Homo sapiens: one gene and its partners. The protein of the gene in region 3 interacts with the protein of the main gene of each other region in a pairwise test. Each region holds a gene or a part of one and is shown on either strand. Other genes may lie near its edges. The genes, in order: CASS4, RSPH1 and MTMR2.

Region 1 (3,653 bases), on a different chromosome or scaffold from region 3:
ATATGTACAGTCATTCTTCACTTATGGGTCATCCATCTAGATTTGGTCCACAGGCCCTTGTGTAGCAGCCTATGTCATCTCAGTTTACGTAGGCCACCCCCACCCACCCACGCAGTACCAGGAAACACCCAAGTTGTCGACACCTAGTTCAGAGGCATCCTCAGTTAACTGTTTCTTGGGTGTCCCTACAGAAACTATCAATGCATCTATAAGATACATGTTTTAAGGTTTTACACAAATAGGAGCTGTAAGTAAAGATCTGTTGAGCTTCTTGCCTTTAGCAACTACCAATACGTACTGGTGTTCAGTTCATATTAGTGCAGTTGATCCATCTCATTAATCTTAATGCCTACATTGTTGCTCAATTGCTTTATAAATGGTAGCACAATGCTTCAAGGGGTCATGTCATGTCAGTGGTCCTTAGCTTTGGGGCATTCGCCTTTAAAACAACCCTGCCTTTCATTCAGGGCCACCGCAGATAGCCTTTCAGACCCTGAAGTTCGCCTTTGTACATCGTATGGTAAACAGGGACTGTTCTCGCAAGCTGTTCCTAATTCTACCTGCTGGCCAGTAGCTCCGTTGCCAGTAGAGCTGCTTTCACCTTTGTGCATGGCAGATTTTGTGTAATATCCAGACTGATTTATTCTATTTTTTAAAAATTGTTTTATAGAACAAGGCGAAATTTTTTTAAAACACGTGATATTAGTGATAGGAAACACTGGCCTCAAAGGTGGTAAATTTAACACCTCATTCATTGGTTTGTGGAACTCTAGCCAACTAGTCAACTCCATTCAAGAAATACTAGAAATTTAGTTTTCGTGGGTTTTTTTGAGGTGGAGTTTCACTCTGTCGTCCAGGCTGGAGTGCAGTGGCATGATCTTGGCTCACTGCAACCTCCACCTCCCAGGTTAAAGCAATTCTCCTGCCTCAGCCTCCCAAGTAGCTGGGATTACAGGCATGTGCCACCATGCTCAGCTAATTTCTGTATTTTTAGTAGAGACGGGTTTTCACCATATTGGCCAGGCTGGTCTCGAACTCCTGACCTCAAGTTATCTGCCTGTCTCAGCCTCCCAAAGTGCTGGGATTACAGGCGTGAGCCACTGCGCCCAGCCAGAAATTTAGTTCTAAAAGAACTAAAATTGTCTAAAAGACAAGGAGGATAAGTGGGCTTATTATACGTAAGTTCTTATTTTGGATTTTTGGTAGTTTCAAGATGCCTTAGTTACGAAAATAGAGTCTGCAATGTACTTTAGTGATTCAGTCCTGTTTGCTATAAATTCTGTTTACTTCCGTGTGTGTGTGTGTGTGTGTGTGTGTGTGTATGCACACATGCCATTACAGGTAATATTGAAATTAGCATCTTCATACACAGCCCTTTTTTCCCCAATAACATGATTTTCTCACTGGAGTAAATGTCCAGGAATTGAAAGAGGATTTTACTGAATGAAATAAGCTTTGGCACTTATTTTCCATCATTTTCTGAGAATTTCTGATATTTGATTCTATTTTAAACCTACTTTCCCCAGTATTTTCTCTACAATCTGTACTTTCTTTTATAAAGACAGCTATGTGCTCATTCAGTTTTCTGAAGGCATTTTTCAAGCAAGCATCTTTACTATGTTACTGAAGAGTGGATGGTCCAATATTTATACTGTAAGAACATTTAAATGTGATTATCTTTCACATTTTAAATTCAGCCTCAATTAAAGAGCAAATCTTTTTTGTCTCTCTCCCATCTCAACTCTGAGTGGCATGGTTTTGGACCCACTCAAGAAGGATCAAGGTAAAAATGTAGAATTTTTTAAAAAATCTTCCACATCTCAAGGTTGGTTTAAACACGACAAAATGTGTTGGCTTGGAAGTGTGTACCACTTGCTGGGACTTGGCTTGCTTCAGTGCTTCTGGGCAAGAAAGCCTGGTGAGGCTTCGTTTGTGAGTGGAGAGCAGTTTTAGGTTCTCTTTGTACCTTTAGCAGCTCTGAGGTGGTGAGCAAGACATTTCAAACTCAGTCTTTGTTGAAGGGCAAATGGGATTGTGTGCAGAAAGCTGACCTGGCCCTTCAGGGCCCATTAGATCCCACTCCGAGCAGCTCTCCTGCCTCAGTTCCTTCCCCTTCTCCCCTGCTGTTCCCCGCCTTGGATTCTTCTCTCTCTAGCAAGCATCGCCTCACCCAGAGGCCTCTCTGGACCACGCTGTGCAAATCACTTCCCCCCTACACAGGCCCACCGCCAACACTCTCATCTATCTTACCTTCACTTATTAAGATCTGAAATTATCTCACTTTGTTTGTTCCTCTGTCTTCCTCTCTGGGAACGAAACTCCATGAGGGACAGACCTGGGCTTTCTTACTCAGTGCTGCATCTCCGGTGCCTACAACAGTGCCTGCACAAAGTAGTTGCTCAATACATGCTTTGTGGTAGTGTGTGAACGAATGGGAGCTTACAGGGAGTGCAGGTGGAGCCCTGGCTGCAGCCCCGCTGTGAGGATAGGAACAGCACTACTTTCTAGTCAGCAGGTGTTTGGCAACGGAGGTCATTCCTGACTCTCAGCTCTCTAACCCCTACCTGGCGTCAGCCTAAGCTGCCACTCAGCCTGTTCTCTTGACAATTGTCCCCCTCCTTGTCCATGGTCAGATGTTGCCTTAGATGCAAGCTGTTGCTATTGAAATCAAGGTCACAAAGACCTGTAGCCTCCCTCCAGCATTTCCCAGCAACTTCCTCCCTTCATCTATTCCACGAGGCAAAACAGCCCAGACACAACACCCAACTCGAAAACACAGCTCACCATCCATGCCTCAGCCATTCACCCAATGCATAGTTATTGGGCTCCGGGGGTTCAGGGTGATCAAGACAGAGCTGACATTCCAATGGAGTGAGCATGACAGTGAGTAAATAGACCCATGGTTTCAGGTGGTGAGAACTGCCAGAAAGAGGAGAAAACAGGGGGATCTGATGGAGGCGATGGATGGAAAAGGCCACTCTGAACACCCAAGAGATGGGAAAAGCTTTCCAGGAAGAGGGAACAGCAGATGCCAAGGGCCTGCAGTGGGAAGGTATTCAGCATAGTACAGGGCCCCTGTAAAGACCCATGGGGTCAAAGAAGAGTAAACCAAGAGAGAGAGGGGTCAGAAGTGAGATCTGAGGTGTAAGCAGGATAACATAGGGCCTGGTCGGCCGTGTAAGAGCTTTGAAGCCATTCTAATTGCAAAGGAAACCACCAGCCCACTTAAAGCAGGAGATGACATGATCTAATTTATGTTTTCTAGATCACTCAGGCTGCTGTGCAACAGATGGGCTGTAAGTAGGAAAGAGCAAAAGCTGGTAAACGTGGAGACTTCAGTGTAGGTGGCTTCATTTTCCACTGGGGTGGTACCCTGCTCTTCTCCATGGACACGAAGGAGAATCGTGTACTCTGTCTTTAAAAAAGTAGAACTTTTGATGTTTGAGACCGCTGGTCGCCGTGTCGGGTGGGGAGTGGTTGTGAGCAGAAAAAATAGTAAATCAAGGAGTAGATAGCTTCTATTTATGTGTGTTACGTTTGATTCAGGAACACAATGTACCTTTCATTCCGTCAACAAATATTGAATGCCTGCTGCACACCAGGCACTGTTCTAAATGCTTCCAAGTCCAAGTGCCTGGTCCCCTTTCTCCATA
Region 2 (3,753 bases), on a different chromosome or scaffold from region 3:
TATCCTTCAGAAAATAAATGTTCCTTAGCACCTAATACATGGGTATAGAGTGAATATAGTAAATAATAAAATGCTGAAAGCATCCAGTAATGATTTAACATGGGTATCTCATAACATCACACTGTATTTCTTAAATATACATAATAAAATTTATTAAAAATTAAAATTAAGAAATTGAATTGGATGTATATAGACTTATTATAACACAAGTACTGACACACTACATTGAGGACTTCAGAAATAAACGTCTGTGCAATTCTTGCCCTTTTCTAGCACTGTTTGGACCACTAATTCCTGCCTAGAATATAAGGTAAAAATCTGCGACCTCACAGATTTGTTTCAGGGTTAGTTTACATCAAAATGTACAAAAGTCCCCTCCTTCTATCCAAGAGGCTTCCCAATACACCCAACACTGAGCCGCTGGGGTGGCTGAATAAGACAGAAATCCTTTAAAATGACCCCAAATGTGATCTGAACCTAAAAATTATAGGCACTAAAAAGTTACAAATCAGTGGGGCCATTTGAGGAGACAAACTAGAAATCTTGCTGGTCAAGTGTTGCAGGTTGGGTTCACCTAGAAACAGACCCTGAACAAGTGATTTTTTTTTTTTTTTGAGACAGAGTCGCTCTGTTGCCCAGGCTGGAGTGCAGTGGCGTGATCTCGGCTCACTGCAACCTCTGCCTCCCGGGTTCAAGCCATTCTCCTGCCTCAGCCTCCCGAGTAGCTGGGATTACAGGTGCCCGCCACCATGCCCGGCTAATTTTTTGTATTTTAGTAGAGACAGGGTTTCACCGTGTTGCCCAGGCTGGTCTCAAACTCCTGAGCTCAGGCAATCTGCCCACCTCGGCCTCCCAAAGTGCTGGGATTACAGGTGTGAGCCACCGCGCCTGGCCTGATTTTTTTAAGTGCTCTCCTGGGAGAAAGTAGTAAAGAGGGCAGGGAAGTAGACATGAAAGGGCAGGCAGCTAAGGAAGGATGCCTTTGCAGGTGAAGTCCCAGACTTGGCCTAATCCAACAGGGACTCTGGGGGCATCAATCGCACTGCAGACTTTGTCCTGCTTCTTGCACTAGCTACTGGCTGTCTGGCCGGATGTGAATTTCAGGCACTTCTGGCTCTCCATACTGGGCAGGTAGTTCCAGCGCACAGAGGTGATAGCTTGAGTAGCAAATCAGGCGGAAGCTGGGAGATGAGTGCCCAGAGCTAGCAAAAAGGTCTGGGCAGGCACTGACAGCACCACTGCAGAGTCGCTAGATTTTTCAGTTAATTCTGAAAGTACCTCAACTCTGTACTGTGCATGCAGACCATAGTGGCTGAGGTTCCCTATCTGTCAGCCATGGAGAGGTCACTCTCTGGAGTAGGGAGGAACTACTCTCTGGGTGATAGAAATATTCCCACACAGAACCCAGCTCACAGGCTGGATGTGCCCTCTTTCTCCTCTCTGCTGCCTAACTCAGGAAATAACTCCAAAGACCTGGGTCAGTTCAGATGGGGACTGAAGAAAGCACATGTGAGGATACGCCTATAAGGTAATATCTTCAGGAACCCTCTCCTGAGCCCAGGGCCTCCTCAGCATTTCTTGGAGGCTGCCAGGAAGCAACTATCCTCCATGCATCTAAATGCCGGGGGAGCAAATCTCAGCTACAGAAATGACTTATTCAAGGGCAGTATGGCAGCGTGGGATGATCTGCTCATCCGAGAAAACTGCCTCGATGGGAATTAACACAGGGAGGAGGAAACTTCCAAAGCCTTCCGCTGGGAAATCTTTGCCTTTAATGGGAGGCAGGATGGGGGTGGGGGAAGAACGAGGCGGCATGTGGTAACCAGACGTCACAGCGTTTCACTTTTCACCATCAACTTCCAGGACGCACGCAGGTGTGTCTGGCGTGGCCTTCGTCCCTGCCGGGGATCCTGGGGAGCTGTGGCTCAGACCTCTGGTTTCTGCGCCTCCTCACTCTCCAAACCCAACCTCGAGGTTCCCCCGCCGCTGCGCACCCTGGGAAGCCCTTTCTCACCAGGAGCTCTCACCCCAATATCATTCTCTCCCTCCTCCTCCAACTCCTCCGAGCCCAGGTCCGACATGGTCTCGCCCCAGCCTGGATCACAGCCGCAGCGCCTCTAGCAGGTGGGTAGCAACCGCCTCCACCGCCGCGTCCCGCGTCGCCATGGAGACGCGGCCGGTCCCGCCTCCCTCCCAGCCCGGAAGATGGGGAGCGGGGACAGGCGACGCGGACGAAGCGGGAGGAGCCACTGGCAGCCTTTGCGTACTGTCATAGCAACGGGAAGGGCACCTCGACCAATCACCGCCCGGGAATACGGAGGGGCGGGGCGGAAGGGACGAGGTGGAGCCAGTGGCAGCACTCTGGTGCCGTCATAGCAACGAGGGGCCGCTTCGGCCAATCACTGCTCGGGAAGCGAGGGGGCGGGGACTGGGCAGGGCCTGAGCGGGTTCTGTGCCTGGCTGCCCACCGGCTCTCTGACCTGGACCTCGCCGTCGCTGGCCCCTGAAATCCATCACTTTTGTCGGCTGTTCTGTGACGCCACAACGAGGAGCCACCTGGGTACTGGGCCCTCAAGAGGAAGGACGCGGGAAACGCGTCCGGGCCAACTCTCGAGAGGGTTTCACCCCTGCCCAGTGCGGGCACTGCCCGCTCCCTTCCGCCCCCAGGCCTCGCAGGCCCCTCCGGGGATGCTGCCCACCCCCACTTACCTTTCTAGGCTCTGCTGACCCTTCGGGATTCGCGGCTAGCTGTGATGTGTCCGCCAAGATCTCTTCTCTTGTCTGTAAACAACTTCACTCTCAAGGAGGCAGCTCTGGCCTCTCAGCAGGTGCGGCCTACAGTGATGTCCGTCCGGGTTTTACATCCTTCCCCGACCTCGACATGAGTCCCAGCCCCCTCGGGCCTCTGACTCTCAGGTGTCCCCTACGATCGCCGTCCTCTCCTCTCGCTCCTGGCTCCCCTACACTGTCACACACCCACACAATCACAGACGCACACGCATGTACACGTGCAGGCTTGGAAATCTGCTTTACCTGACGCACTCCGCCTGCCGAAGGCCCCTCACATCTCCCATTTCCTCTGCCATCATCCCAGACTGCAAAGCTGTGTTATTTGTTGTTGCTGCAGGAGCTGGGGAGGAGTGACTGAATAACTATAGGATTTGGTCTTGATGGGAGAATCCCAGAAGCCAAATCCACGCGGTGAATAAGCTGCTGATCTTCCAGAGCACACATCCCCTAGAGATTCTTCCCAATGCTAATATGAAAGGTTACAACCATAACCCATCATCAGGCCCAAATATATTACTTACTGAATAAATACACAAGTTACAACAACACACGAGATTCCAAAATTATGTCGTTTTTTAGATGCAAAGATAAAAATGTTGTAAACACCAAAATTTAACAGCTTTTCTTATGGGGAAAAGTGGGGAGTTAGGGATAACAGATGATTATTATTTTCTTCTCTACATATTGGCAGTTACCCAGTTACTACAATTAAGCATGTCCTATTTTTATAATAAAATGCCAGAAGCATTTTAAATGTTAGAAATCTAGAATGGTAACATAAGTATATGCAAATAAATACTCGTTTTTTACATTTAAAATGTCAGAAATTTAGCTTTCAAATTTGTCCTAACAATGACAGTAACCAGTGTTTACTAAGTTCTGACACTGTGTGTGGGCACTGTTTTAAGAATTTTATGAGTTATCTTATTAAATCCTCACTATCATTCCTCCATTGAACATCTA
Region 3 (3,653 bases):
TTCAAGCAATTCTCCTGCCTCAGCCTCCCCAATAGCTGAGATTACAGGTGCCCGCCACCACGCCTGGTTAATTTTTGTATTTTTAGTAGAGATGCGTTTTCATCATGTTGGCCAGACTGATCTCGAACTCTTGACCTGATGTGATCCACCTGCCTCAGTCTCTGAAAGTGTTGGGATTATAGGCGTGAGCCACCATGTCCGGCCAAGATGATCATTATTAAAAAATAAGTTATGAATTTGTGAATATATCAAAATATGTAGACTGAACTGGGCCCAAAAGAATTAAGTCTAATTCATGAATCACCTTTTCTATTACTGCTAAATTTTGTTTTCTTCTATCAATGTCATACTAAAATAACATTTCTAATTGGAAATCCATTTTATATTTTAGAAACCAATTTCAAAACAGAGGTTCTATTTAATACAAAGCTTTTCAAACCAAAGAAAATCACATACATATTATAACATTTACCTTACACACAGTTTCTAGTCCATAAGAATTTTCACCTCGACTAGAAGCACCACCAATTTTTTCTACTCTATTTATCACACCAAGGGAAGCATCTAAAACAAATGGGGGATCCTAAAGAAGGAAAGAAAAAATAATTAAAACTGAGCAATTAATACTGTCCAATTATAGAGCTGATCAAAATCTTAATCAGAAATGCTTTAATTAGAAATGATCAGAAATGAACAAAACTAGCTACAAACAACACACTCATGTACATACAAAAATCTAATCTGACTCTTACCCGTTCCATGCTTTTGAAATATAACCTATAATTCGTGACAGTCAGAGTTCCTCGTACAGCGCCAGTGAATGGACATATATAAGTTACATCTTTGGCTGAAAAAGCAAGAAGTCCACAGTTTACTATACATTATGTGCTATTAAAACCTGCTATCTCATCTTATAAAATTGTTATGATTCCTAGACTAATTTATGCTGAAAAATAACAGAACCAGTAATTTCCAGAGACCTCAGAATCCTACAACCCAAGCTTCCATCCTTGCACTAATCTGGGGAAGAAACACAGAATTAAATGGGATAGGCTGAAAAGGTGGAGGGACTTCTCATCCCATGAGACAGAATGGAAGTAAACAAAGGGGCTACTATCCTGGCTAGATAAAACAGGTGTGGGTAGCTGCAGCAGAGACGGGTGAAAGAATACTGGTAATGGTGGTATCAACAATAAGCATGTCAAGGCACAGTCGCCATCATCTCATTGCAGTTTCTATGTAACCTCACCAATTTCCTGTCCAGTTTGTCAACATTCTTCTAAAAATGCAATGTCCAAAACATATGTTATTCCACAAACTCCTGATCTGATTAATACTTATGGGGAAAATTTTACAGGTGAAATGACACACATTTAAAATATAATTTCTTAGAAAAATAACAGTATAAGAAGAGGATATTGTACTGCTGACCAACCAATGCCAGACTTTGTAAAGAAATAATCACAAGTAATGTTTTATCAAATAAACAATGGATCTACATGGCATTATGTTTTGTAAAATATGCATTAACTGATTATGCAGGATAACTTAGGAATCAGTATCTCAAAATATTATTTAAAATGCCACAGTTCATAATTTCCAATACATGGTTTTTATATCTTAAAATATTCATAAATTCCTAGTATGTCATTATTACACCAAATCAGCAGATAAAGGAGTATCTTCATCATTCCAAGGAAGTAAGGGACAATTCTGTGGAGCAACAACTTTCTAAGACCCTTTCAACGGGCTTCTGGGAAAACTTGGGGCCATGAAATATATTTAATAAGGTATTACAACCTCCTGACTTTGCTTCTCATTCAACACTTCGAAGGACTGGCTGCTTTGTATGGAATTTGAAATGAGACTGATCTTTTCACAATCATTTCTAACCTTCAAAATAGTTCCCTTAGGAACATTTTAAGTATAAACTACTTTTTTAAATCGTTTCGAATGCATATTTCATTTAGAGGGAAGCTTTTAAAATTAAATGAACCCATCATTATACAAAAATACACAAACTTGCTTTGCACAAATAATATTTTTCCCTTATGAATTTTTACCTCAACTAGAAAAGCTTTATTCAAGGTTACTAAAACATTTCTGGATTCCTTCCACAGTCAATTTTCTTACTCATGTAAGAAAACTCAGCCTTATTATCCTATATCCCACCACAGGAATGTCATTCTCAGGCCAGTGCTTTTCTGTTACATCTTCCCCTTTATTCTAAAATCATGAGATAATATACATATAAAGATGCTTCTAAAGTTCTAAGTACAATACAAAAATTCAAGGGTTTATACCTATGTTACTATTATCATCATTAGTCTTTGCTTTGTTCTGTACCCTCTATCATTCCTCAAGAGATCATGACAATGGAGAAAAGAAGATAAATACAAGAAATTCTTAGACACTGACTGGATGTTAAGAGTCCAGAAAAGAAAAAAAGAGCAGTCTAGTACGACAACCAGATTTCTGACTTGAGTAAATGGACAGCTGGTATTGATGTCAACTGAGAGAGAGAATGCAAGAAAAAGAGTAAGTTTGGAGTTAAACGTGATGATTTCCATTTTGGAGATGTTGGGTATAAGGTTCCTATGGGATATTCAAGGATGTGTGTTTAAGATAGAGGCATTTGTTTACTTACATTAGGACAGGGGTTCACACTGGAGATAACAAATTTTGGAGTCATCAGCCAATATATGGCAAGTGATGTTACAAATTTAGATATGGTCAACCGAAAAGAGTATACAGGAGGGAAAAGGGAAATGGGTCAAGGATGAAGTCCTAGGGCGTGTTGCTATTAAAGGAAGAAGAGCCAACAAATGAGACTGAGTGGTAACTTGAAGTTCTTTAATAAAGCCATATTTCATAATGGGAGCTGCAATTACGGCATTAAGTTCAGAATAAGAAAAAGAAATTGTCACAATGCTAGATATAACCTTATTAGCTAGGTTATCTTCCTATGCCTTAGTTTCCTTCCTCACCTATAAAATGGGGTTGATGTTATTCTCAAGAATATACTCTCTGAGAATGACTGAGATAGTAAGCACTCAATAATAATAACTACTATCATTATATAATAGCCAATTCTGAAAAAATGTAAGTAGGTAGTTCAGATCAAGAGCTTGGTGTATATATAAGGCTAACTGGGGAAAAGAAAAAGACTGAGAGGTTATTCAATCAAGAGCCAAGAGCAAGAAAAGACAAATAGCATGCTAAGGACTAGGAAGCTAAATTTAGTAAATAATAATCCATTTAGAATACAGGTCCTGCCTTTGGCTTGTTTTTACACATAGAAATGACACCTAGCCAAGTAAAATTCAGCATTTTTAAAATCCTTTTTAAAAATTATGATTGGTAACAAAATGAAACATGGTAGTTATATTAACTAAGAAATCATTTACTTCATTCTTCTAACATATTACTTTATTTCTCAGAGTTTATGAGTAGATATCTGTAGATTATCACACAGATGAAACAAAACAAAAGCATGAGGAAAAAAAACACAGCTTGTAAGCTCATTTTCAGTTTCCAGTCCATATTATAAGTATTAGGCTGGGCAGAGAAGGGCATCTACATACAAACAGATGCAATGGAGATGATGTATTTCATCCAAAAATTAACCTGACTTTATTCAGAGAAGAAAGACA

The links.
Region 1: the proteins of MTMR2 (region 3) and CASS4 interact in a two-hybrid assay, tested with the Homo sapiens proteins (one large-scale study listed by IntAct).
Region 2: the proteins of MTMR2 (region 3) and RSPH1 interact in a two-hybrid assay, tested with the Homo sapiens proteins (one large-scale study listed by BioGRID and IntAct).

Annotation. Positions count from the first base shown.
Region 1 is NC_000020.11:56,415,238-56,418,890, forward strand, and holds part of CASS4 (cas scaffolding protein family member 4), read left to right. Parts: intron 1-3,653. UniProt on the Homo sapiens protein: Docking protein that plays a role in tyrosine kinase-based signaling related to cell adhesion and cell spreading. Regulates PTK2/FAK1 activity, focal adhesion integrity, and cell spreading.
Region 2 is NC_000021.9:42,494,106-42,497,858, forward strand, and holds the start of RSPH1 (radial spoke head 1 homolog), read right to left. Parts: upstream 2,120-3,753; 5' UTR 2,082-2,119; coding exon 2,028-2,081; coding exon of another isoform or gene 2,015-2,027; intron 1-2,014.
Region 3 is NC_000011.10:95,861,520-95,865,172, forward strand, and holds part of MTMR2 (phosphatidylinositol-3,5-bisphosphate 3-phosphatase MTMR2), read right to left. Parts: intron 848-3,653; coding exon 753-847; intron 584-752; coding exon 473-583; intron 1-472. UniProt on the Homo sapiens protein: Lipid phosphatase that specifically dephosphorylates the D-3 position of phosphatidylinositol 3-phosphate and phosphatidylinositol 3,5-bisphosphate, generating phosphatidylinositol and phosphatidylinositol 5-phosphate.